Linked DNA regions of Homo sapiens: regions 1 and 2 are each linked to region 3. Evidence: fine-mapped expression QTL. A gene starts in region 3. Each other region holds a variant in brackets. All regions are shown on one strand. Distances are from middle to middle. Region 1 has its middle 12 kb from the start of C14orf93. Region 2 overlaps RBM23 (RNA binding motif protein 23). Region 3 holds the start of RBM23 (RNA binding motif protein 23).

Region 1 (8,178 bases), 100 kb after region 3:
CCTGCTAATTTTAAAAAGTTATTACTTGGTAGAGACAAGATCCCCCTATGTTGCCCCGGCTGGTCTCAAACTCCTGGGCTCAAGGGATCCTCCTGCCTTGGCCTCCCCAAATGCTGGAATTATAGGCATGAGCCACCACATCAGGGCCAAGGTTAAACATTTTTAGCGAGAATATTACTTAGGTAATTTTATATACTTCTTATTGTATCACATCAAGAGGCATATAATGTCAGTTTGTTCTATTATTGGTGACTGCAAGTTTATTCATGTCTGCTAGACGTCTCTGTTGTAGAAGTATATTTGCCATTTGTAATTAATTAGTAAACTAATAATAAATAGAGTGATTGTTATGGGCTGAAATGTGTTCCCCTAAAACTTATATACTGAAGCCCTAACCTCCAGTACCTCAGGATTCGACTGTATTTGGAGACTGAGTCTTTAAAGAAGTGATTAAGTTAAATGAGGCACTTAGGGTAGAGCCAGTCTGACTGGTGTCCTTATAAGAAGAGGGAATTTGGACACAAAGAGATACCTGTGGTGCACAGAGGAAAGACCATGTGAGGATACAGTGAGAAGGCAGCTCTCTGCAAGCCAAGGGGACTGAGGCTTCAGAAGAAATCAACACTGCTGATACTTTGATCTTGGACCTACAGCCTCCAGAACTGGGAGAAAGTAATTTCTGTTGTTTAAGCCACTCAGACTATGGTGTTTTGTTATAGCAGCCTTAGCAAACTAATACAGTGATTATCTTAGATAATGTGAATATCCTGTTCTTCCACAACCTTGCACCTTCCTATTTTTGCATTGGGGTTTGCCAAATGGTGATTTTTCAAATTCTGTTATTTCTTCTACATATAATAGCTGGCATCTATCTACTCATTTTTCTCCTCTTTGCCTTCTTCATTATCTTCTTTACATTTATGTTATTTCTTTTTTTTTGAGATGGAGTGTCGCTCTGTCGCCCAGGCTAGAGTGCAGTGGTGTCAAAAAGAAAAAAAAAAAGTCCCAAAAAAACAAAAAAGACCATCCTGGCTAACACGGTGAAACCCCGTCTCTACTAAAAAATACAAAAAAAACAAAAATTAGCGGGCATGGTGGCGGGCGCCTGTAGCCCCAGCTACTGGGAAGGCTGAGGCAGGAGAATGGCGTGAACCTGGGAGGCAGAGATTGCAGTGAGCCGAGATTGCGCCAATGTTGCCTGGGCGACAGAGCGAGACTCTGTCTCAAAAAAAAAAAAAAGAAATTCACAAAACAAGTAATTTTAATTTGTCTTAATTTTAAAAATTAATATACGTTTCATAGTTTTTTTGTTTTTGTTTTTGTTTTTTTGTTTTTTTGAGACAGAGTTTCACTCTTTCACCCAGGCTGGAACGAAGTGGTACAATCTTGGTTCACTGCAACCTCTGCCCCCTAGGTTTAAGTGATTCTCCTGCCTCAGCCTCTGAGTAGCTGGGATTACAGGCGCATGCCACCACACCTGGCTGATTTTTGTATTTTTAATAGAGACAGAGTTTCATCACCATATTGGCCAGGCTGGTTTTAACTCCTGAATTTAGGTGATCCACCTGCCTTGGCCTCCCAAAGCACTAGGATTATAGCCATGAGCCACCGTGCCTGGCCCATAGTATGTTTAAGAGCAGCAAAGGGCATCTTAAAATTAAACAATATGGGAGTCACAGTGCTAAGAAGGGTAGGAACCACTGGCAAAATGACACCATAGTGAAATCATTCATTAATTTTTTTTTTTTTTTTTTTTTTTGAGATGAAGTCTCGCTCTTGTTCCCCAGGCTGGAGTGCAATGGCGCAATCTCGGCTCACTGCAACCTCCACATCCCAGGTTCAAGCGATTCTCCTGCCTCAGGCTCCCGAGTAGCTGGGACTACAGGTGCCTGCCACCACGCCTGGCTAATTTTTGTATTTTTAGTAGAGACGAGGTTTCACCGTGTTGGCCAGGCTGGTCTTTTTTTTTTTTTTTTTTTTTTGAGACGGAGTCTCGCTGTCGTCCAGGCCAGACTGCAGTGGCGCTATCTCTGCTTACTGCAACCTCCGCCTCCCGGGTTCTCGCCATTCTCCTGCCTCAGCCTCCCGAGTAGCTGGGACTACAGGCGCCTGCCACCATGCCCGGCTAATTTTTTTTTGTATTTTTAGTAGAGATGGGGTTTCACTGTGTTAGCCAGGCTGGTCTCGATCTCCTGACCTCAGGTGATCCGCCTGCCTCGGCCTCCCAAAGTGCTGGGATTACAGGCGTGAGCCACCGCGCCTGGCAATCATTCATTAATTCTGTATTTTTTTTTTTTTTGTAGTGGAGTCTTGCTCTGTTGCCCAGGCTGGAGTATAGTGGCTAGTGGAATCTCTGCTCAGTGCAGCCTGCGCTGCAGTTCAAGTGATTCTCTTGCCTCAGCCTCCCAAGTAGCTGGGATTACGGGTGCACACCACCACACCCAGCTAATTTTTGTATTTTAGTAGAGACAGAGTTTCACCACGTTGGCCAGGCTGGCCTCGAACTCCTGACCTCAAGTGATCCACCCACCTCGGCCTCCCAAAGTGTTAGGATTACAGGCGTCAGCTAATGCACCTAGCCTCATTAATTCATTTATTAAAAGTACATTTATTATATATCTTTCCTGAGTAGCCAACAGCATGCTAGACACTGTGGGGGAACAAGTAAAAACTACACTATAGTGCTTAACTGAAAAAGCAGGCAGACATGCCAGGAAACAACCAGAGACACTACATAGATGCTGTTTGATGTGGCACATGCCTAAGGCTGTTTTTTGATTTGTTTTGTTTTGTTTGAGACAGGGTCTAACTCTGTCACCCAGGCTGGAGTGCAGTGGTGCGATCACAGCTCCCTGCAGCCTCATGTCCCAGGTTCAAGTGATCCTTTTGCTTCAGCCTCCTGAGGAGCTGGTACTAGAGGTATGTACCACCACACCTGGCTAAATTTTAATATCTTTTGTAGAGATGGGGGTCTCATTATTTTGCCCAGATGGTCTTGAACTCCTGAGCTCAAGTGATCCTCCCACCTTGGCCTCCCAAAGTGTTGGGATTATAGGTGTGAACCATGGCACCTGGCCCTAAGGCTGTTTAAATGAGATGTAGAACAGTGCTGACCCCTAGCCAAGGACCGCACTTGGATTGATCCACCTTTATGCATTTTTCCTCTTTAGGAGGTGCTTGGAAATGCAGGACTATGCTGAATATGTTGTGTTGGTTTAAAATGCTCCATTGCTTTCTTTTCTAAAGACTAAGCTATGAGCGCAAACTCAAGACTCAAGGGAGACATGGTGATTATGAGCCCTCCCACATAACCATGGTGCTCAGAGGATTCCCTCTAATCAGACAATACCACACATCACCGCTGGAGATAAGCTGCTGTGAAAAAAAGCCTGTGTATTGTGTGAAACTCTGTATGCATGGGGAGGCTTAGAGTGCATAGGTGTCTCTGGGATAGTGATGGTGTTGAGGCTAGAATGAGAAAAGAGCTGCGGTCGTGCAAAAACATCCCCTCTACCTTGGTGCCTTGTAGGCTACACCTACTTCTATTTGGACCTACTTATTTCTCGTCTTACCTGACATGTGCTATTCCTCAGTCTTCCTGGGAGGTAGTGGCTTCCCTCTCCTGACTTAGGCACCCTAGGCCCTGATCTGCAGGCATGTTTGCAGAAAAGAGGATGAGTTATGTGTGTATGATGTGTGTTGCCAGGGAGTATGGAGGTGTGGGGAGAGAAGGCTTCTTAGTGAACCTAAAAACAAATTTTCGAAGGTACTGGATCTGTGATCCTGCCTCACTCACCCTGTTACTTTTACGACACAGGTTTCTAATTTTCTGTCTTCGGCCTGGCTGGATTGAGATGGGGGTTGTGAGAGCCCAAACCTTCTTTCCAACCTCGCATAAGTGGTGTAGACATGGAGAGATTCTTGCAGAATTTAAGTGACTGTGACAGTACAGGGGCAACACACAGAGAGGCACGTGTTCATTACGTATGGCTGGAGAAATTATCTGTCTCCAGGGGGACATGTTTCACTGTGCATTAGCTTCGAGCCGCTTCCTTCCTCCCTGTTTTTCTGCCCACTCTCTCTATCACTGTCCTTCTTAGTCTCCTTTCCCACTCCCTGTCTGCCCCCATTCACAGTCCAGCTCTGCCTGTCAATATCTCCATCCATCTTTCTCTGCCACGTTCACATCTCCCTCTGCACTTTGCTCAATCTCGCGCTTGCTGTCTGGGAGTCGCTTTTGTTTGTCTCTGGTTTGTCTCTTGTTCTCTCTAGTTCACTTTCTGCCATTCCATCTGTTTTCCTCTATAATACCAGCTTTTTGGGTACCCTGCAGTTAATGATAACCTTTTCTTGTTACAGTAAAGCCTATAAGCAGCCCTTGGTTTATTGATTGATTGGTTTTTATTTAAACTCTGCAAAGGAAAGAGAATTTTTATAAAGTGAGAGAGCAGAGAGAAAACATGGAACGAGGCAAAGGGAGGAACAGCCTAAGATGGGGCCGGGGATAAGTAATGGGAAGCATCAGAACGTGTCGAACCCATGGTGTCTTATTTCTTTTCAAATAAACTGGGTCATATCTTTATGGCTGATGACAGCTTAATCTGGACCATAAAGAGTTAAATACCAGCTTAAGCTTGGCACCTAACTCAGAGGCAAAAGCTTCTGGGAGAAATGAGTTGGGTCAAATAAGCCCAAGAAGCTGACGTG[G/T]GTAGAATTTCTTCTGCTTGACCCACTAACAACTGCAAAGGGGACATTTTAGAAATGTTTTTTATTGAAATGCTTCAGTGGGGGCAGAGCTCCTGGAAACCAGAACTTGGCTCTGAAGCCACGCCTGGGGAGCACGGGAGGCTGACTTGGGGGGAAAAAGAGGGGTGGCCCAGGTCAGGTAGAAGGTGGCAGCAGCTGCTGATCAGGGCAGTTCTGATTGCTGTTTGAGCTCCCTCTTGCCCACTATAATTAAAGCATTCCCAGTATGATTCTGGCTTCCTGAAGGGAAACTAGAATTTATAAAAACAAACAAGAAACAAACGCAAAACAGCAGAGGTGCTTGGTTGCAATATATGTATATTTTAAATTATAGAGCACTGCTCTATACTCCATACAGTTTCAAAGTCCGTATCTGTTATAGCCCTGGGAGCAGGTCAGGGGAAGATCTAACAAAAGAAACAAAAATAAAAGAAAATTAAAAACCTAAATGTATCCACCGAAAATTAGATATGGTCATGTAGATTCTCTCCTAACCCAATCATCCTATCCTTGTTACTCCTGACACAAGGGAAATGCTCCCCTCAAAATTTCCATCCACCTTTTTTTTTCTACTTTATTCTCTTTTCATCCCACCTCTTTCTTCCTTCCCCTAACAGACCACATAGAATCCGTGGGCCAGAATAAATCAGTTATTTTATTTCCCCTCGGAGGATGTGACCTTCCACTCCCCAAATGGCTCTGACAGTTTTCTCATTTGCTAGCTGAGGAGGATATCAAGAGACACTGACCTTCTGGTTTTGCCTAAAGAGGAACACTCAGTAACTATTATCCTTCAGTCTTTGATTTGCGTTAACTGTGCCCTTCCTCCCTCCTCCCCCACATCCTCACCTACCTTTTCACCTTCCTTCATGAACATTCTACTCACCCCACAGTGCACTGCTACTCCCCACAGCCCTCCCTTGCCTGGTGTGCAGATGCTGGAAGGCTAGCAAGAGAAAGCAAGGGGCCTCCAGGAGTATTTGCTCCCTATTTAATCAGATTAGTCCCATCACCTACCCCGAGGAGCCAGATTTTGGTGTTACTGAGTTATCTGTTGAGGGAAGAGAAGTTGTCAGACATCACTTAAAGAGCCCAGTCCCTTGGACGCCTGGGAACTGCTGAGAGAAATTAATCTTCCAGCTATTTAAGGCGATTTCTTTTCCATCATCCTTTGTCAAGAGGACTGTACTGGGAAATGAATCTGATGGGAGTCCCTGAACTGGTACACTCCACTCAAAAACATCTCTCCAATCCTATGCGGCATCCATCATTCCCACACAAGCGGAGACACACATCGCTGCAAAGCCAATTTCCCCCCAGTAACCATCAGCAAGAAATCACAAATGCACAGGGTGGATACCACTAGCCTACAGACTTGCAGTTTTTCCCTACCTCTGCTCTACTTTCTTCCCAGAAAAACCTACCACAAATCGAGCTCTTCCATTAAATGAGTCTTTTACCCAAGACCCAGGAAGGTAGATCAACAGGGATATGCCAGAACAGAACATGCATTTTCTCTTCTAACATAAGGACTCTGCCAGTGCAGAATAGGTGTTTCCGTTAAACAGCTAAACCACTGCCAAAGCAAAGTGTGAGACAGAAACAGGGCAAAGGGTTGCATTGTTTCACGATCATCTCTTCTCTCCAGAATGAATTTTCTGTTCATGGACCAAAGCTGGGGTCTTATGCTCTCTGGGGTCATGTAAGGAAATTCCAATCTTCAATTCTCTTTCTATCCTTAAGGCTATTTCCCAGGGAAGAGGTGTTCAAATTGTGTTCCTTGAGGTTCCAAGAAGTGCCAGGGACTGTGTATGTGTATGGGGCTAACAAAGGGTGCTGCGGGGAGTGGCTGGATGGGGAAGCTCAATAGTGGAGGCTCTGGACCTCTCAGCTCAATTTCAACCTCTGATTTTTTTTTCAGGCATTGGGATTTCTCCTAAGAGTGCTTTTTTTTTTTTCTTTTTTTTTTTTAAGATCTGCAAACCAATGTCCTAAGTGGGAGGAAGATGACCTACCTGTGCTTCTCACGCAGCTAACCATTTCCCAACAGTCTACGAGAAGGAAGATGTAGCTTGGGTCCTGCCTATTTCTTTCTTTCTTTTTTTTTTTAGATGGAGTTTTGCTTTTGTTGCCCAGGCTGGAGTGCAATGGCACCATCTCGGCTCACTGCAACCTCTGCCTCAGCCTCCCAAGTAGCTGGGATTACAGGTGCCTGCCACCACACCCAGCTAATTTTTCGTATTTTTAGTAGAGACAGGTTTCACCATGTTGGCCAGACTGGTCTCAAACTCCTGGCATCAAGTGATCTGCCTGCCTCCGTCTCCCAAAGTGCTGGTGCTGGGATTACAAGCCTGAGCCACTGTGCCCCGCCCAGCTCCTGCCTATTTCAACCATGTAGTCTGAGTCCACACCAGCAGCTCCCTGACTGCAGGGGCTCCTGAGATACTTTCCTGCAAAAAATTTCCTTAGGCACGAGTCATTTGTTTTCCAAACCCCCTTCTCCGATTTCACTAATTCCCAATTTCCCTGCATTTGACAAATGCAATTAACAAGCCTCGATCAGTTCCTGGCCGACAGCCCTCATCAATCAATACGAAGACTGCACAAGGCTGAGGGGGAAGGGAAGGTAGCTGCAGTACAGGAGAGGAGGGTTTACCCCCTCTTCTTCTGTGAATGACTTCTCCAAACCTCTCAGTCTCAAAACATGACACTGGGTTGTCACCTTCACCAACCACTTTCTGCCTTCTGACTAAATACAAGGTGGTATTGTTTGTGTCCTCCGCTCCCATTTTTTAAAGGTTTCTCCCATCAACCTCCTCTATCCCCTGTCTTCTCTTTAACAGAAGGCCTTGCCATCTGCTGCCACCATAGCTTGGGAACTCCCCCCAGCCCCAACAGTGCTGGGTGTGATAAATCAGCCATCTCTCTGCTCTCAGCAGGGCCTCTTCCCCACCCACACATTCCAGTGACAATTTAGTGCTGCTTCCTGACCAGGAGGCTATAAAATCACCATCACTACCCTCTCCCCTCCACACATATGCACTGGAGGACCAAAAGGACAAGGGTCACCAAGCTTGTGGTTACTACTGCTTTCACAGCCACTTCTTTGTCCTCCCCTTCCCAGGGTCCAAGCCTTCCCTTCCCAGTTGGTTTAAGAGTCAAGATTTACCCTCTTCACCCTTCCGCTCTGCATGTAGCCTCAGCCTCCCTTCCCCCACCACAGGGTGACAGCCTTTTCCGCTGGAGCCCTGCCTGGTACAGCCCTGTGCATCTTTCCACCTCATCAACTTTTCATCTCTTTGTAAACCAAATCGAGAAGTGTCTCCCTCCTCCCTGCCTCTCTCTCCTTCTCCGTTATTAGCTTCATGAGTGGGGACATTAATGTATTCACTAGACAATGTCTTCACACCACTGTTTCCTGTAATTACAGTC
Region 2 (8,178 bases), 23 kb before region 3:
CCTCAGCCTCCCGAGTAGCTGGGATTACAGGCATGTGCCACCACACCCGGCCACTTTTGTATTTTTGGTAGAGATGGGGTTTCTCCATGTTGGTCAGGCTGGTCTCAAACTCCCAACCTCAGGTGATCCGCCTGCCTCAGCCTCCCAAAGTGCTGAGATTACAGGCCTGAGCCACCGCGTCCAGCCTGTATGCCCTTTTTCTACCTTTGGAAATTTTTTTTTTTTTTTTTGAGACAGAGTCTTGCTCTGTTGCCCAGGCTGGAGTGCAGTGTGGCACAATCTCAGCTCACTGCAAACTCCACCTCCTGGGTTCAAGCGATTCTCCTGCCTCAGTCTCCCGAGTAGCTGGGATTACAGGTGCCCACCACCACGCCCAGCTAATTTTTGTATTTTTAGTAGAGACGGGGGTTTCACCATCTTGGCCAGGCTAGTCTTGAACTCCTGACCTCATGATCCACCCACCTCAGCCTCCCAAAGTGCTGGGATTACAGGCGTGAGCCACCGCGCCTGGCCTACCTTTGGAACTTTTAACTGTGTCATTTAGTACCACTTCAAAAATGAAACGAAATAGGCCGGGCACAGTGGTTCACGCCTGTAATCCCAGCACTTTGGGAGGCCAAGGCCGGTGGATCATGAGGTCAGGAGTTCAAGACCAGCCTGGCCAAGATAGCGAAACCCCATCTCTACTAAAAACTACAAAAATTAATCAGGCGCAGGGGTGGGCACCTGTAATCCCAGCTATTCGGGAGGCTGAATCGCTTGAACCTGGGTGGCAGAGGTTGCAGTGAGCTGAGATCATGCCACTGCACTCCAGCCTGGCGACAGAGAGAGACTCCGTCTCAAAAAAAAAAAAAGAAAGAAACAAAATAATTTAAAACAAAGCCTTAGGGGTCCAGAGAAAGAAGAGGGAACAAGGAGATCCTGGGGATATATAGATGGAGAAGGTGGAGAAGCAGCTGCCAAAGAGGTAGTGGGAGAACTAGGATTGAGCCTGTTGTGACTGCTGCCAGAGGAGGGGTTTCTAGGAGAGTATCACCAATGGTCAGATGTGGCCAGAGAGGAGGATGAGGAACAAGAAAGGCCCAGTGCCTTTTACGTGGCAGAAGCTTAAAACATGTCTTTCGTGTATGGAAGACCATGATGGCAAGACCTCCCCCACGAGGGGAGCCACACACCATGAGCCTCCCTCCCCCAACTCAGCCAGTCCCATCAGCCCGACCCATCTGTGTGTTCCCTCCAGACGCCTACAGGGAATAGCTCAGAACAGACGGAAGCTGAAGCCAGGCTCCCGCCAGACTTGGGAGAGGTGAGGCCTTCTCTGAGAGCCAGGCCATTCTCTCTTTCTCTCTCAAGGCAAAGTAGAGCCATTGATCTTGGCTGGGGTGAGAGGTCAGCAGAGGGCACTGGGACCTGAGCTGCCATGCCAGGTAAGGTCCTTTCTGTCCTCATGCATCTCTTAACCACTGCAATTTTGTCTTGGAGTCCGTGTTCCCTTACCAGCCCCTGCCCAGCCCCTGCTACTCCCACTCCCCTTTGCCCACAAGACCGCCTCATTGGCCCAGAGCATAGACTTTGTGTGCTCTCCCCTGAGGGTCAGAGGAACGGGGGAGTCCTGCATCTGGAAATTTTTCCACTCTGGGCCTCTGCCTACAGATGAGCTTTTAGGCCGTGCTGCATCTGAGCCCTCTAGAGAGACTGGAACAGGGGCTCTTCTCTTCTGAAAGACTGCCGGGGTCATACGTGGAAGTCCTCTGGGTTAAACCCTCACTCCCAGGAAGTTCACACACACACATCTTTTTATTAATCTAATATAGTTTCAATCCACATCAATCTAAGTAAATTTTCCTGGACATTTTAATCTTTCATCCACAAATGCTAGAAGACATTTTGTTTCTCTCAAGTACTAAACATCTGCAATATGCCAATCAGTGTGCCGGGCCCAATGGGGAAAACAAATACAAATAAGACACAATTTCTGCCCGTCAAATAGCTTGCAATTAAGCTGGGGAGATGGATGAGGTGATACAGCACAAAACAGGCAAAATAGCAGCAAACAATACCACATTCTATCTAACTGGGGGCTACCTCATGTGCTCCAGGAATTCTGAATGGAAGAAACAGTAAATTTGGAAGACATATTTTAGAAACTGGGCCTTAAAGGATATGTAGGCTATAGATAGTTGAGAGAAAGAAGGAAAAGCATTCCTTGTGGTCAAACTACATGAGCAAATGCACAGAGAAGAAACAGTGGGCAGCCCACCACATGAGGAAAAGGCCCTTCCTATAAAGAAGGCAGCAAAATTTGGGTGGATGGTGCAGTCGTCAAAGGACACAAATGCCGGACAAGAGCATACTGCTTCTCAGGCCTTTATCATCTCGGTGACTCCCTGATGGATATGCTTAAGGTCCCTTTTCATCTATTTGAATATTGATGTCAAGTTTCCACAGCTTAGTGGCCTTGAAAACTCCAGATGTGAATGCAAATTCAGTAAGCCCTTGAATGCTTTTCAATTAGTGCTCAGGATGTTTCCTGGATGGGGGTCTGTGGATGAAGTCACTCTTAACCTGTCTGGTTTGCTGAACTCAGCTATGCTATCCCAACTCTAAAATGAAGAATACCTACCTTATAGCGAAGTCATGAGGACTAAATAAAAGAGCAAAGATCTTTGTAATTTCTCAAGCATTATACAGAGAAGCGGTGGAAGTAGTAATGCCTTTTGCAACCTATGTCCTGGCCCTTTATTTAGGCATCAAAGCAGCTTGCTAAACTCTCAAAGCACAGCACCATTTGGAGATAAAAATTTAAGTTATGGTCTACAAAGTCCAACGTGCCTTCCATAGGACTCACGGGTAACACTTTTTTGGGTTTTGTCATCTGATGGAAGGTTGGGGGACAGATTGGCAATTGAAGCTCCACGATGGTATTTTACTGCATGATTTTCCATTTTTGTGTTCAAATTACAACTTGACTTTAAGCAGAGGACCTGTGCTGATTTAAAATACTTACTCAGGTCGGGCAATTGGCTCACGCCTGTAATCCCAGCACTTTGGGAGGCCGAGGTGGGTGGATCACTTGAGGTCAAGAGAGAGACCAGCCTGGCCAACATGGTGAAACCCTATTTCTACTAAAAAAAATTACAAAAATTAGCCAGGCATGGTGGTGGGTGCCTGTAATTCCAGCTACTCGGGAGGCTGAGGTGGGAGAATCACTTGAACCCGGGAAGCAGAGGTTGAAGTGAGCAGAGATCGCAGTGAGCAGAGATCATGCCACTGCACTCCAGCCTGGGTGATAGCATGAGACTCTGTCTCAGAAAAATACATAAATAAGGCCCAGCCGGGCGCAGTGGCTCACGCCTGTAATCCCAGCACTCTGGGAGGCCGAGGCGAGCGGATCACTAGGTCAGGAGATCGAAACCATCCTGGCTAAAACAGTGAAACCCCATCTCTACTAAAAAATACAAAAAATTAGCC[G/A]GGCATAGTGGCAGGTGCCTGTAGTCCCAGCTACTTGGGAGGCTGAGGCAGGAGAATGGCATGAACCTGGGAGGCAGAGCTTGCAGTGACCCGAGATTGCGCCACTGCACTCCAGCCTGGGCGACAAAGCAAGACTCCATCTCAAAAAAAATTAATTAATTAATTAAAAATAAATAAATAAGGCCCAGTGCAGTGGCTCAGGACTGTAATCCCAGCACTTTGGGAGGCCAAGGCGGGTGGATCACCTGAGGTCAGGAGTTCGAGACCAGCCTGACCAACATGGAGAAACCCTGTCTCCACTAAAAATACAAAATTAGCTGGGAGTGGTGGCGCACGCCTGTAATCCCAGCTACTCAGGAGGCTGAGGCAGGAGAATCACTTGAACCCAGGAAGCAGAGGTTGCGGTGAGCCGAGATCGCACCATTGCACTCCAGCCTGGGCAACAAAAGCGAAACTCCATCTCAAAGAAAAAATAAAAATAAATAAATAAAAAAAATACTTATTCAGAAAGGAAAATGCCAGTGTAGGGCTAGGCTCTGGAGACCAACAAAGACAGGTGCTTGGGGGAGGCTGAGACGCTAAGGAAAGGGTGGTAACAGAGGGTGCTCTCAGGCAGTTGTGGTGGCTCACACCTATAATCCTAGCACTTTGGGAGGCTAAGGAGGGAGGATCACTTAAGCCCAGGAGTTCAAGACCACCTGGGCAACATAGCAAGACCCCATCTCTACAAAAAATACAAAACTTAGCTGGGCATAGTGGCACATACCTGTAGTTCCAGCTAATCAAGAGGATCATTTGAGCTCAGGAGGTTGAGACTGCAGTGAGCTGTGATGGCACCACTGTACTCCAGCATGGGCAACAGAGCCAGACCCTGTCTCAAAACAAAACAAAACTGAGTGCCCTGGTATTTTTCCCCTGCCAGACAAAGCTAATGGTGTTAGGTACCTTGAAGGTACCTGTGAGGGGGGCTCATTTTGATTTTTCGAAACCATCTGGTTAAAATCTAACTATGTGGACAGAGCCTCAAGCATAAAGAGATTGGGCTAGTGGGATCTGTTTTCCTGAAAACTAGGCAGGTTGTGTGTGACCCAAGACCTTGTAAGCTTGGGGCTTCAGTGCAGGAACAATTTATTTATTTAAAAATGAAGATTTATTTTCACCATTGCACTGCCCTTGCTTTTCCCCATAAACCTTGAGCTCTAAAGTTGGGGAGAATGAAGTCAGCTAGAAAATCAAGTGAGTAGGCATCCAGAGGAGTGAAAATACTGAGGACAGTAATGAGCCAAGTTCCAAACCTTTCTCAATGAATTCTCACAACATCCCTATGAGATAGGTGTTATCATTTCCTTTTTACAGATGAAGTGTGAGAGAAGTGAAGTAACCTACCCAAGCTTATTCAGCTAGTTTGTGAGGGAAGAGGGATCTGAACCATGCTGTGTGGTTCCAGAGTGTGACACTCGGCTACAGGGTGGAGGTCCCCTAGCTTGCTTATGCTCAGGAGTTGAGGAGGCGAATTCTTAGCACCACTAATTCTAAGCAAGTAGGCTTCCTGATGCCTGAAAGCTGACTGAAACTCCCATCCTTTCTGGAACATTGGCAAGTTTGACGGGTCTCCGATTTCCAAGGTCATTGTTTCTCCTTTCTACAATCCGGCACTGACTGGCTGCTTTCCAGTCTTCAGGCACCTCATCCATCTACCCATTGCTCTCAAAAATAACTGCTTAATGGCTCTCCAGAAACTCCAGCCAACTCCTTAAGGGCTCTTGAGAGCAGATCATCTGAACAACTAATAGACTTCATCCAACTTTTTGAAGTGATCTTTGCTCAGCTCTTTCCTTGCACCCACCTTCCCACGTGATCTAAGTTGGTTGGTCTGCTTCACCTCACTTTCACAGAGCTCTCTCAACCAAGGGCACACCAGAGAGCAAACCAGTCCTGGATATAAAGCGCAAAAGTTATGAGAGAGGGGAAAGGATGTCTGAAGCTAGAAGATTCAGATATGCAGCTTCTCAGACCGGAATTCCTTTCCTGCATCCAGCTCGTGACTATTGCCTTCACCTGGTTGCCATGGAAACATCAGTCTCTGGTGGATGGCAAGCAGCACTTTAGAAAGAAAGTATCACAGGCTACCATGGTAACATCAGAAAGAGTAAAGCTGCATCTTCTCTCCTGGTGGAGTGAGGAAGGAATGGATGAGGCTGCTGGGAAAAGCAGCCTAGAAGGGGCAGCCTTTGGAAAGCCTGGTGCTGACTTTAACACTTTAATGAACAGCATTCATTCAATTCTACAGACATTTAATATGTGCAAGGCAAAGCAATCATGAGAAAGACATCCAAGTCTGGCCTCATCAGGCTGTAACCATCAAGTAATGGAGTTTTCAATAAAATAATTTTTATTGCAATTATTTTATTTACTAAATAAAAGTAGAGTAAGATGACCCACAAGAGGACAAAGAATACTGAAAAGAGAGATCAACTCCACCTAGGAAAGCTTCAGGGTCTTAAAGGACAGGACTTTGATCAGCAGAAGGAGGAAAGGAAGAGAGATAGCTGGCAGGTTAGATCACTCCCATGCCTCCTAGCAAGATGCTGAGCCTACAGTAGGTCTGGCCTCAAGCTGCTTCAAGATAAGGTCTGAGGCTGGCTTCTCAATGCACATGCCCATGCTATCTCCCAGGGCCCTTGTAGCAGAAAGAGCACCTTCAAGGTTCACCCACAAACACTGTCACTCAAGATAAGCAAAGACATGGCAGTGGAAAAATTCTGAGTCTACGGAGAGCTATGGGTACAGGGATAGGAAAAGTGACACTTCCTCACTGACTCCAAGGCCTTGTCTTCCATGGTGGTGCTGAGAGGCAGGTAAGGTTAAGATCAAGGGATCTGAAGCGAGAGTACTTGGATTGGAATCCCTAACTTGCTAACTTTGTGCTTATGGGGAAAATTATTTAACTTATTTGGATATGTTTCCTTGTTTACAAAGTAAAGATAATAAACTACTTGAGAGGATTGTTGTGAGGATTTTGTGACTTAATACACGATTAGAACACCTAACCTACAACCAACCTTGCATAAATGTTAACAATGACCATTATGCCACCTCCTGTCACCTCACCTTTCAGAGTCTCTTTTCACTGTCCAAGTGTTGCTGCCTGATTTTCACTAAAGCCTTTCCATTACACGGAAAAGAGGGACTGTGATATAATTCCATCCTTCAGGTTTTTACTCAATTCCCTTCATGATATGCTCCAGGACTAAAAGTTCACAGGTCAAGCCTCTGCTTCTACTGGTAACTCCTATCTGGGGGTTGTTGGGAGTCTGAGGAAGCAGGCAGAATTCCTGTGTCAAGAGCACAGCAGTTTAAAGAACAGGGAGGAAATGCTGCCACCTTAGTGAATACAGAAGCATAGACTGGAAGTCAAAAATCAGGTGAGAATCTTTTCTAGAACTGAAGACTGGTAGGGAAATTCTAACTATGCTGGCAAAGGATCTAGATCACAATGTCACCCCTACGCCACCAGCCACCATGTGCAGGTAGATGTTGAGGGAAGTTTCTTTTACCTTAAGCTGGGCCCAGAGTCTGTTCACAGCCCGCTTCTCTCCACTCTAACCACCTCGTATGGAGGGATGAGTAACAAGAAGGCACTGAGTCACACACGGACAGCAACTGTCACTCACTAGATACCATCACCTTATATGGAGTAAGACTGGAAATTGTCTTAGATACGTCCTTACTTCCAACATTGTCTCTCTCCCAGCAAGAGGCTATGTGAGGAACTAAGAACAAGAAAGAACTGAGGTGGAAGGATCCGAGTGTAGGAAGGCCAAGGTAGCTAGGGATGGAAACATAAGGAAACCAAGCAGAGGAAGGCAGGGAGGCAAGGCCTGTGGATATTTATAATAGTCTGAAGGAGCCAAGCCAGCCATGAGAAGACCCAGTTCATGGCCTCAGGATGACTAACAAAAACGGTACCCACTGCACTTCTCAAGATACATTAGAAGCCAAATCAATAACTGTAGGGGTGCTGGGTCATAGCCAGCAGCTTCTACCTAAAAATAGTGCATCCTCCTTCCCTTTTCCCCCGGTCCAGAAAGCAAACTAGGATAAGATGGGGGAAGGGATGGGGGTGGTAACCAGGAGAACAGCAACATCATGTGAGATCTAGGCCTGGAAGAATCAGAAATGCTGTGGTTTGAATGTGTCCCCCAAAAGTTCACATTGGAAATTTGACTCCCAATGCAACAGTGTTGAAGATGGGGCTTAATACGAGGTGACTGAGTCACAAGGACAGAGCCCTCATGAGTGGATTAATGTCACTATCACACAGCAGGTTATCATGAGAGAGGGCTGTTATAAAGCAAGTTTGGCCCATGGTCCCTTTGTCTCATGTACTCATTTCTACCTTGTGCCCTTCTGACATGGGATGACCCCCACCTGATGCAGGCACCATGCTCTTGAAATTCCCAGCCTCCAGAACTGTGAGAAATACACTTTTCTGTTTTTTTGAGATGGAGGCTCGCTCTGTTGCCCAGGCTGGAGTGCAGTGGTGCATCCTCGGCTCACTGCAACCTCCGCCTCCCAGGCTCAAGCGATTCTCCTGTCTCAGCCTCCTGAGTAGCTGGGATTACAGGCACCCACCACCATGCCCAGCTACTTTTTGTATTTCTAGTAGAGACAGAGTTTCACCATGTTGGCCAGGCTGGTCTTGAA
Region 3 (8,164 bases):
ATGCAAGGAGGCTATCATAATCAGACTTTTTCATAACTGTAAGAACTTTGTTGGCCAGCCGTGGTGGCTCACCCTGTAATCCCAGTACTTTGGGAGGCCAAGGTGGGTGGATCACCTGAGGTCAGGAGTTCAATACCAGCCTGACGGATATGGTGAAACCTCATCCCCATTAAAGACACAAAAATTAGCCGGGCATGGTGGTGGGCGCCTGTAGTCCCAGCTACTCAAGAGGCTAAGACAGGAGAATCGCTTGAACCTGGGAGGCAGAGGTTGCAGTGAGCCGAGATCACACCACTGCACTCCAGCCTGGGTGTAAGATGGAGTAAGACTCCATCTCAAAAAAAAAAAAAAAAAAGAGGAACTTTGTCCTCTTTAAAGCAGCTAATGCACTATGCAACAATGCTGCCTTGGTTGCCCTAAGAGTCCATATCCTATTTTGACAATTAAATAAGTGTAATAATTACAACTATGATTCTATGACTTACAGTACCTACAACTGCTAGACACTGTGCTAAGCATGTTATGGAGAGAGAAGATTCTTAGAGAAAAATTACTTGGAGCCAAATTTAAGGCTTAAATGGAAATTAAACCCAAATCAAATTGGTATACATAAAAACCAGTAAACTCAATTGCCTCTGCCTCCCAGGTTCAAGCAACTCTCCTGCCTCAGCCTCCTGAGTAGCTGGGATTACAGGCATGCGCCACCACATCCAGCTAATTTTGTATTTTTAGTAGAGACCAGGTTTTCCGTGTTAGTCAGGCTGGTCTCGAACTCTCGACCTCAGGTGATCCGACCGCCTCGCCCTCCCAAAGTGCTGGGATTACAGGCATAAGCCCCATGCCTGGCTTTTTTTTTTTTTTTTTGAGAAGGAGTCTAGCTCTGTTGTCCAGGCTGGAGTGCGGTGGCACAATCTCAGTTCACGCCAACCTCTGCCTCCCAGGTTCAAGCGATTCTCCTGCCTCAGCCTCCTGAGTAGCTGGGATTACAGGTGCCCGCCACTACGTCCCACTAATTTTTGTATTTTTAGTAGAGACAAAGTTTCACCATGTTGGCCAGGCTGGTCTCAAACTCCTGACCTCAGGTAATCCGCCTGCCTCGGCCTCCCAGTGCTGGGATTACAGGCATGAGCCACTGTGCCCGGCCTTCTACTTCTTCCAGTAACACTTTATATTTATTTAGCAATCAAAGGTAACAAATGCTGCAGACAGGTAATATATGATTCATACCCAAATTTTTTAAAACTAACGTTTTTTGAACTGCTCAAAGTCATACATAGCTCAAGGGCCAGGCAGAGGGGGTGGCTCACGCCTGCAATCTCAGCACTTTGGGAAGCTAAGGCTGGAGAATGGCTTGAGGCCAAGTCAAAATCAGCCTGGGCAATACAGTGAGGCCCCATTTTTACAAAAAATATAAAAATTAGCCACGCATGGTGGTGCGTGCCTGTAGTCCCAACTACTCAGGAGCCTGAAATGGAAGGATCGCTTGAACCCAGGAAGTTGAGGCTGCAGTGAACTGTGATCATGCCGCTGCAATCCAGTCTGTGCAGCAGATTGAGATTCTGTCTCAATCCCCAAAACAGAGAAGGTCACACAGCTCAAAGGGAAGAATGTTTTTTTTTTTTTTTGAGACAGGATTTCACTCTGTTGCCCAAGCTGGAGTGTAATGTTGCAATCTCGGCTCACTGCAACCTCTGCCTCTCTAGCTCAAGCAATCCTCTAACCTCAGCTTCCCCAGTAGCTGGGACCACAGGTGTGCACTATGATGCCAGGCTAACTTTTCATATTTTGGGCTTTTTTTTTTTTTCTGGTAGAGACATGGTCTCACTATGTTGCCCAGGCTGGTCTCAAACTCCCGGACTCAACAGATCCACCCACCTTAGCCTCCCAAAGTACTAGGATTACATCTGGCCAGAGGAGCTAATTCTTGATCAGAAAGGTTTTCTGACTTCAAATCTAACATTATATCTATTATATCAGATTACTTCTCATATGGTTTGTAATTAACTTTAAAGGAAAAAAAAAAGGACACAGTATACCAAGATACCTACTTTTAAATATATACTCACTGAACATGAATGTTCTTCTCATATGTTTATCAAAATAATCAGTCCCATTAGCTAAACCTCATTGTGAGTCTCCTATATCTGAGGCATGTACAGTGTATGCTTAAAGGTATTAGACTAATATACACTATGGGAAAATAGTTCTAAAAAGAAAAGTTTGTTTTTGTTTTTTTTTGAGAGAGTTTCACTCTTGTTGCCCAGGATGGAGTGCAATGGCGCAATCTCGGCTCACTGCGACCTCCACCTCCCAGGTTCAAGCAATTCTCCTGTCTCAGTCTCCCAAGTAGCTGGGATTACAGGCAGGCACCACCACACCTGGCTAATGTTGTATTTTTAGCAGAGACGGGGTTTCTCCACATTGGTCAGGCTGGTCTCGAACTCCTGACCTCAGGTGATCCGCCTGCCTGGTCCTCCCAAAGGGCTGGGATTACAGACATGAGCCACCGAGCCCGGCCTAAAAAGAAAAGTTTTTTATACTCAAGCTGTTTCAGTCATTTTTGCTGCCAAGTCTACACAAATTTTCTGTTATGAACTATTTTTTACAATCTGCTTTTTCCCCTCCAAATGAAATGCTTGATTTCAAGAACTGCTCATTGTTGAGTGCTAATGCGGGGTAAGAACAACTTAACACACACACTAAAACTTACACTTAAGTTTACAAGCCTCTACAAATAAACCTCTACGTAAAAAGTTTTCACTCAGAAACAAATATATCCGTTTAAGCAAAGCCATATACAACACAATATTTTGAAACTTGCAATCTCACTGGGTTTAGTGTCTTTCTAGATGTGCTAAAAGCAATAAGGTAGCAAACACTATGCATTTTCAGGCTGGTAGTTTTTTCTTTTTTCTTCTTTTTTGTTTTTTTTTTGTATTTTTAGTAGAGACGGGGTTTCGCCGTGTTAGCCAGGATGGTCGCGATCTCCTGACCTCGTGATCCGCCCGCCTCGGCCACCCAAAGTGCTGGGATTACAGGCGTGAGCCACTGCACCCGGCCCAGGTTGGTAGTTTTCAAACGCTCTCTTCATGTCCCAACTTATGGGTCAAGGTCCACTCAATCTCATCCACATAGAGTATGTTTTCTTCCATCCTGCTCCAAAAACAGTATTAGAGACCCACAATCACGTCAGTTCCTAGACCTCGTCATAGCACAAGCCAACAGATAGACCCCACTGCTAAAGGAGCAGAGAGAACCACTGTCAGACCAATTCGGGAAGAATTCACGAAAAGCTGGAGCCCCAGGGGTGATGGTAGCGCCATCCCCAGGGTCTGATCACTTAGCTGGGCACAAACACCTACAAACTGAAGGCAGCTTAACAAAAGAGGAACAATGAGAACGATAAAAGCTACTTGAAGGACCACCCTCCCCATGTTGTGTAGCTTTAAAAAATGGTCCTATAGGCCGGGCGCGGTGGCTCACGCCTGTAATCCCAGCACTTTGGGAGGCCGAGGCGGGTGGATCACCTGAGGTCAGGAGTTCGAGGTCAGCCTGGCTAACATGGCAAAACCCCATCTCTATTAAAAATACAAAAATTAGCCGGGCGTTGTGGCAGGCGCCTGTAATCCCAGCTACTCGGGAGGCTGAGGCAGGGGAATCGCTAGAACCCGGGAGACAGGATGCAGTGAGCCGAGATCGCGCCACTCCACTCCAGCCTGGGTGACAAAGCGACACTCCGCCTTAAAAAAATAAAAAAAAAGAGGTCCTATAGGCAACCAACTGGCACAATCTCTGCGGGAGCCAGTGTCCCAGGGCTCAATCTTCATATGTGGCATCATAATACGCCTACTGGAATGAGTGCTTGAAAAAGTTAAATGGGAAAAGCCCATAAAGGTCAACATAGTGAACATGAATCTTCGACAGACTAGAGATTGAGGAAGAAAGCTCAATTCCCTTCTCTCTCTCTGAATGGTGGTGCGAGTGGCTGAAACTGATGATGCGTGTCCTCTCAGGCCGCGGAGGGTCGATGCTCCCTCTCCAGTGTGGGCGACCCTAAGTGTCACGGCTGCAGAGACCCGGAAAGAAAAATCACAGGATTCTAGAAACCGCATCTTTATCGGTGCAAGATACAGCCACGAGGGTGCCCAACTCTAAAATCGTGGCAGTGGGCTACATTTAAGTAGCTAACACTTCCAGGTCAAAACAAACAAAGGTTTTTTTAATGTTAAAAGTTCGCCTGAATCTCTTCGTGACGCCATTTTCTGCCCGTGACGTCAGGGGGGAGGCGCCGTGCAGCAACGTCACGCATTGGTGACGTCTGGTGGGGACCGGGTTTTGGGGTTTCTCACCAGTTCCGGGTCCCCGCAGGGGGGTCCCGGTTCTCTCCGTTCCTTTGAGTATGTTGTGGGGAGTGGAGCTCGGATAGTTCCTAGAGTCTAGGCAAGAAAAGCAGCACTGCAGGTACAGAGCCTCCTCTTCCCGCAAAATGGCGGCAGCTCTGCCGTCTTCCAGAACCTTCCCCAATCTGCGCATGCGCCAAGACTCCCCGGCTTTGGAAATAACCTCACTGGTTTCGCGGCAACCGTCCAAAGTACAGGTTCTCATTGGCTAAAGTCCTAAGTATGGGTGGAGCAAACTCAAATGCGTCTTAGCAACCACCGAGTTCCCATTGATTGGCTAACCTCAGAGACTCCAGAAAATGGAAGCGTCCTTTGGTAGCCGCCCATCACTCTCTCATTGGTTAAATGACTTGCGGAGGGCGGGGAAAACGGGACTGAAAACGGGAGTGAAGAAGCCACCAACCCCACTCCTGGTGCTCGCGTAGACTAGACCAGTGCGATGGGCGGAGCCAACGAGGAGGCACAATTTACATCCTTGGCCGTCCCTACTCGGATTTGCTGAAGGAGTCACGTCGGTCGTTAAGGTTAAGCTTTGTAGAGAACAGCGGCGTTTGTTTAACGTCCGGGGATGCTGAACTCGAAATCCCCGTTCTGAGCCGGCTACCTAAACAACCTTCCCGACCACCTCTCCTGACCTCGGTGCTTGGGACCAGGGAAAAGCAGATCTTGCCACAGACTTGTCTTGGCCCACACTCTGCCCTATCGTCATGGCCTGCTCCCACAGGTCATAACTTCCGTTCAAATCAGTACCCCCACATTTCCCACTGCAAGGGTAAATTTGAAAGTTTCTCAGGTGACTCCTTGGATGTAGCAGTACTGAGTCCTCTAACCGGAAAGAAGGAACTGATGTCCACCCTCACTTTCCAGGGGCCTCCAGGAGCCCCTAGACACTTCTGTGGTCTACTGTAGCTACCAAAAATGTAGCTGGTTATAACATGGGGAGAGCCAGAGTCGGAGGACCTGACTTCCAATTCTGACTTGGATACTAATATCACATCATTGTACCCATTTCAAACTCCCCCTCTGTAAAATGGAAAATTGGACTAGATGATCTCTTAGGACTTCAAACTGTAACCCTGTGGTTTTATTCAAAAAAAACAGGTAGCTTCTTGCTGGAGATTCCTGGATGGATTCCAGTCTTCCCAAGAGGTAACAAAGGAGAGGTAACCAGTTGCCCGTGCAGTAGCTCAAGAATACAGAAGAGAAACTGGCTTCACTCACTATTCCATCTTTTTCCAAGGTGGCAAACTCTATGCCTCCTCCCCAGAGAAAAGCCTAACTGTAGGTTCTAATGGACAAGAGCTCACTGTAGCTGGTCAGAAAGGCCTATATCCAGGACTACAATAGTCATTGCTCAGCTTCCTAAGTAGGGAATACAACTAGGCCCCTTTGGGTCTTGGATAGGCTAAGAGGACAGATCTGAACATGCCTGGGTCTAAGTGAGGTGTGGGAAAATAGTGGCAGGGGGCAGCATGGTCGTGCAGTAAAGGGCTATAACTTTATTTGTATTTCCTCTTACACAAAACCATCAAAACAAGAACAGAAAAAGGCTGAAAATCCGTTCAAACCCCATGTTCTCAGGGATATTCCAGGGAGTTCTTGAGGCTGAGTGCGTAGCTTCAAATCCAGCACTAATTCCTCACCCCCTGGCCTGAGGTCTTCATAGATTGGTGGCTTGAGCCCTGCAATTAATTATAATCCCTTGCCCACCTTGATGTAAGGCAGGAAAGCAGATTGAAATGCTCCTCTCTGATGGGCAAGGGGAATCACAGCCCATAGATGTACTGCACCTTCTGTACTACAGGAGCAGAACCTGAAGCTGCTTCCAAGGCTCTGGACACTTGGCACGCAGGGCTAGAGGCCAATGGTATATGAGCGGCCTGTGGGGTTATGAATAGCAGAACAGACTGGTGCTGTCACAGCCCACTCATACCACACCTTCTTGGAATTGCTGCATCGCCAGAAACGCACACAGATGGTTTGGCCTTCACGTACCGTTATGGGCTGCTGTAAGAAGAAAGACAGGAAGGTTCAGGGTGAAGCTATGAATTATACATGGCAATGTATTAAGGTAGGTGTGGAGATAAAATGATAAACATGACAAGACTGTCCCAACCCTCATGAAAGTTATTTGAAGCCTATCAGAACACAAATAATCAAAGGTGTGGTGAGAGCTGTGAACATGTACAGAGTCAGAAAAACACCTATGAAAGGGAACACTAACCTAGTCTAGGAGATCAGAGAAAGTTTATCTCACAATAAAAATGTTTAAAGAAGACCTAGAAGATAGGTTAACTGTGTGAAGAGACAAGCAAAGAACTCTACAGGCAAGAGAAAGGCATGAAAGCCTGAGGTAGGAAAGAAGATAGACAATTAGAACAAAAAGAAGGTCCATAAGGCTGAAGCAGTGTAAGCAAGGGGACAGTAGCTGCAAAGGCAAGCAAACACTCGATCACATCAAGTCTTACAAGCAATGTCCCAGATTTTGACTTTTATCCTAAAGACAATGGGAAGGCATTGAAGAGTTTTAAGCAAAAAAGAGAGATAAGATCAGGCCAGGCGCGGTGGCTCACGCCTGTAATCCCAGCACTTTGGGAGGCTGAGGTGGGCGGATCATGAGGTCAGGAGATCGAGACCATCCTGGCTAACACGGTAAAACCCCGTCTCTACTAAAAATACAAGAATTAGCCGGGTGTGGTGGCTGGCACCTGTAATCTCAGCCTCAGGGAGGCTGAGGCAGGAGAATGGCATGAACCCGGGAGGCGGAGCTTGCAGTGAGCCGAAATTGTGCCACTGCACTCCAGCCTGGGCGACAGAGTGAGACTCCGTCTCTTTAAAAAAAAAAAAAAAAAAAAGACAGCAAGAGAGATAAGATCAAATTTGAGTTTTTAAAAGATGACTCTTGCTCAAAGTAGAGAACAGACAGAAGAGTAGCCAGAGTAGATGCGGGAAAGCCAGGCAGAAGGCCACTCCAAATACTCCCAACACCTACCACTGGGATCCAAGAGCATATGAAATCAGGAGAACATGAGTCATAGTCAACTATCTTCCTGGGAGAAGGAAAGAAGCACAACACCAAAGGCAAAGGTTACTGCTTAACTAGAGAGTCTTAAAAGCAGTTCCTACCTTAATAGGGAAGAGGATGGGAAACCATGAGAACATCCCAGGAGAGTGAGTCTCTGGACGGATACCTGTGTGGACAAAATAATGAAAAAACAGAGGTCTCCATGGCTGTGACTTTTGCCTATGCTGAAGAGGGTCTCTTCTCTAATCACACAAAGATCTCCATTCATTGAGCACTGGGCCCCCCATAAATCTAAATGACACATGTACATATAAGCTGCCCAGGAAGCACACCCTCATACTCTGCCATCTACTGCCATAGACACTCACTCAGAGTGATGTCCTGATAAAGCACAGTCTCAAAGTAGCCGGCAAAGCCATGTAGTACTGTGTTCACCTCCACAGGAAATTCCAAGGTGCAATAGCGGTTGTTGTCAATCATAGGATCTGTCAGGAAATAATTATGTGGGTGACAAGGGGCCAGAAGCTCTAGACAACTTGATAAAGCATGAGCAAGACCCAGGAAAGGAAGAGTAGATAAGGCAGACTAGGGACAGTAAGGGAAGAAAGCAGGAGGAAGGAAGAAGCCCGTACCCCTCTAGTCAGAGGACAGCCATAAAAGAACCTACCTCTGTTGGGATGGCTGAAGGTGAAACAGGGCTGGGGTGCAGAGAGCTGGTGGAAGTTGTGCAGCCGTACCA

Evidence for each region. PIP is the estimated chance that this variant, and not a neighbour inherited with it, causes the effect.
Region 1: its variant is the best candidate, but not a certain one, in a credible set for the expression of RBM23 in tibial nerve (GTEx, PIP 0.51).
Region 2: its variant is the best candidate, but not a certain one, in a credible set for the expression of RBM23 in neutrophils (CEDAR, PIP 0.56).

Annotation. Positions count from the first base shown.
Region 1 is chr14:23,017,592-23,025,769 of GRCh38, forward strand. No RefSeq gene overlaps it. Among named protein-coding and RNA genes, the nearest start is that of C14orf93, 12 kb to the left of the region's middle. RefSeq lists an enhancer at 7,526-7,615. The variant G/T (reference allele first, on the strand shown) is at 4,708.
Region 2 is chr14:22,891,426-22,899,603 of GRCh38, forward strand. RBM23 (RNA binding motif protein 23) reads right to left here. Exons shown (of 14, transcript NM_001077351.2): 14 at 1,779-8,178. Among named protein-coding and RNA genes, the nearest start is that of REM2, 12 kb to the left of the region's middle. The variant G/A (reference allele first, on the strand shown) is at 3,472.
Region 3 is chr14:22,914,650-22,922,813 of GRCh38, forward strand. It overlaps RBM23 (RNA binding motif protein 23), which reads right to left and starts at 4,500. Exons shown (of 14, transcript NM_001077351.2): 1 at 4,350-4,500. PRMT5 (protein arginine methyltransferase 5) reads right to left here. Exons shown (of 17, transcript NM_006109.5): 14 at 8,093-8,164; 15 at 7,794-7,910; 16 at 7,527-7,591; 17 at 5,880-6,407. The coding sequence ends at 6,255. PRMT5-AS1 (PRMT5 antisense RNA 1) reads left to right here and starts at 4,807. Exons shown (of 2, transcript NR_120600.1): 1 at 4,807-6,471. RefSeq lists enhancers at 2,552-3,316, 3,805-3,974, 4,045-4,154, 4,245-4,314 and a silencer at 4,575-4,874.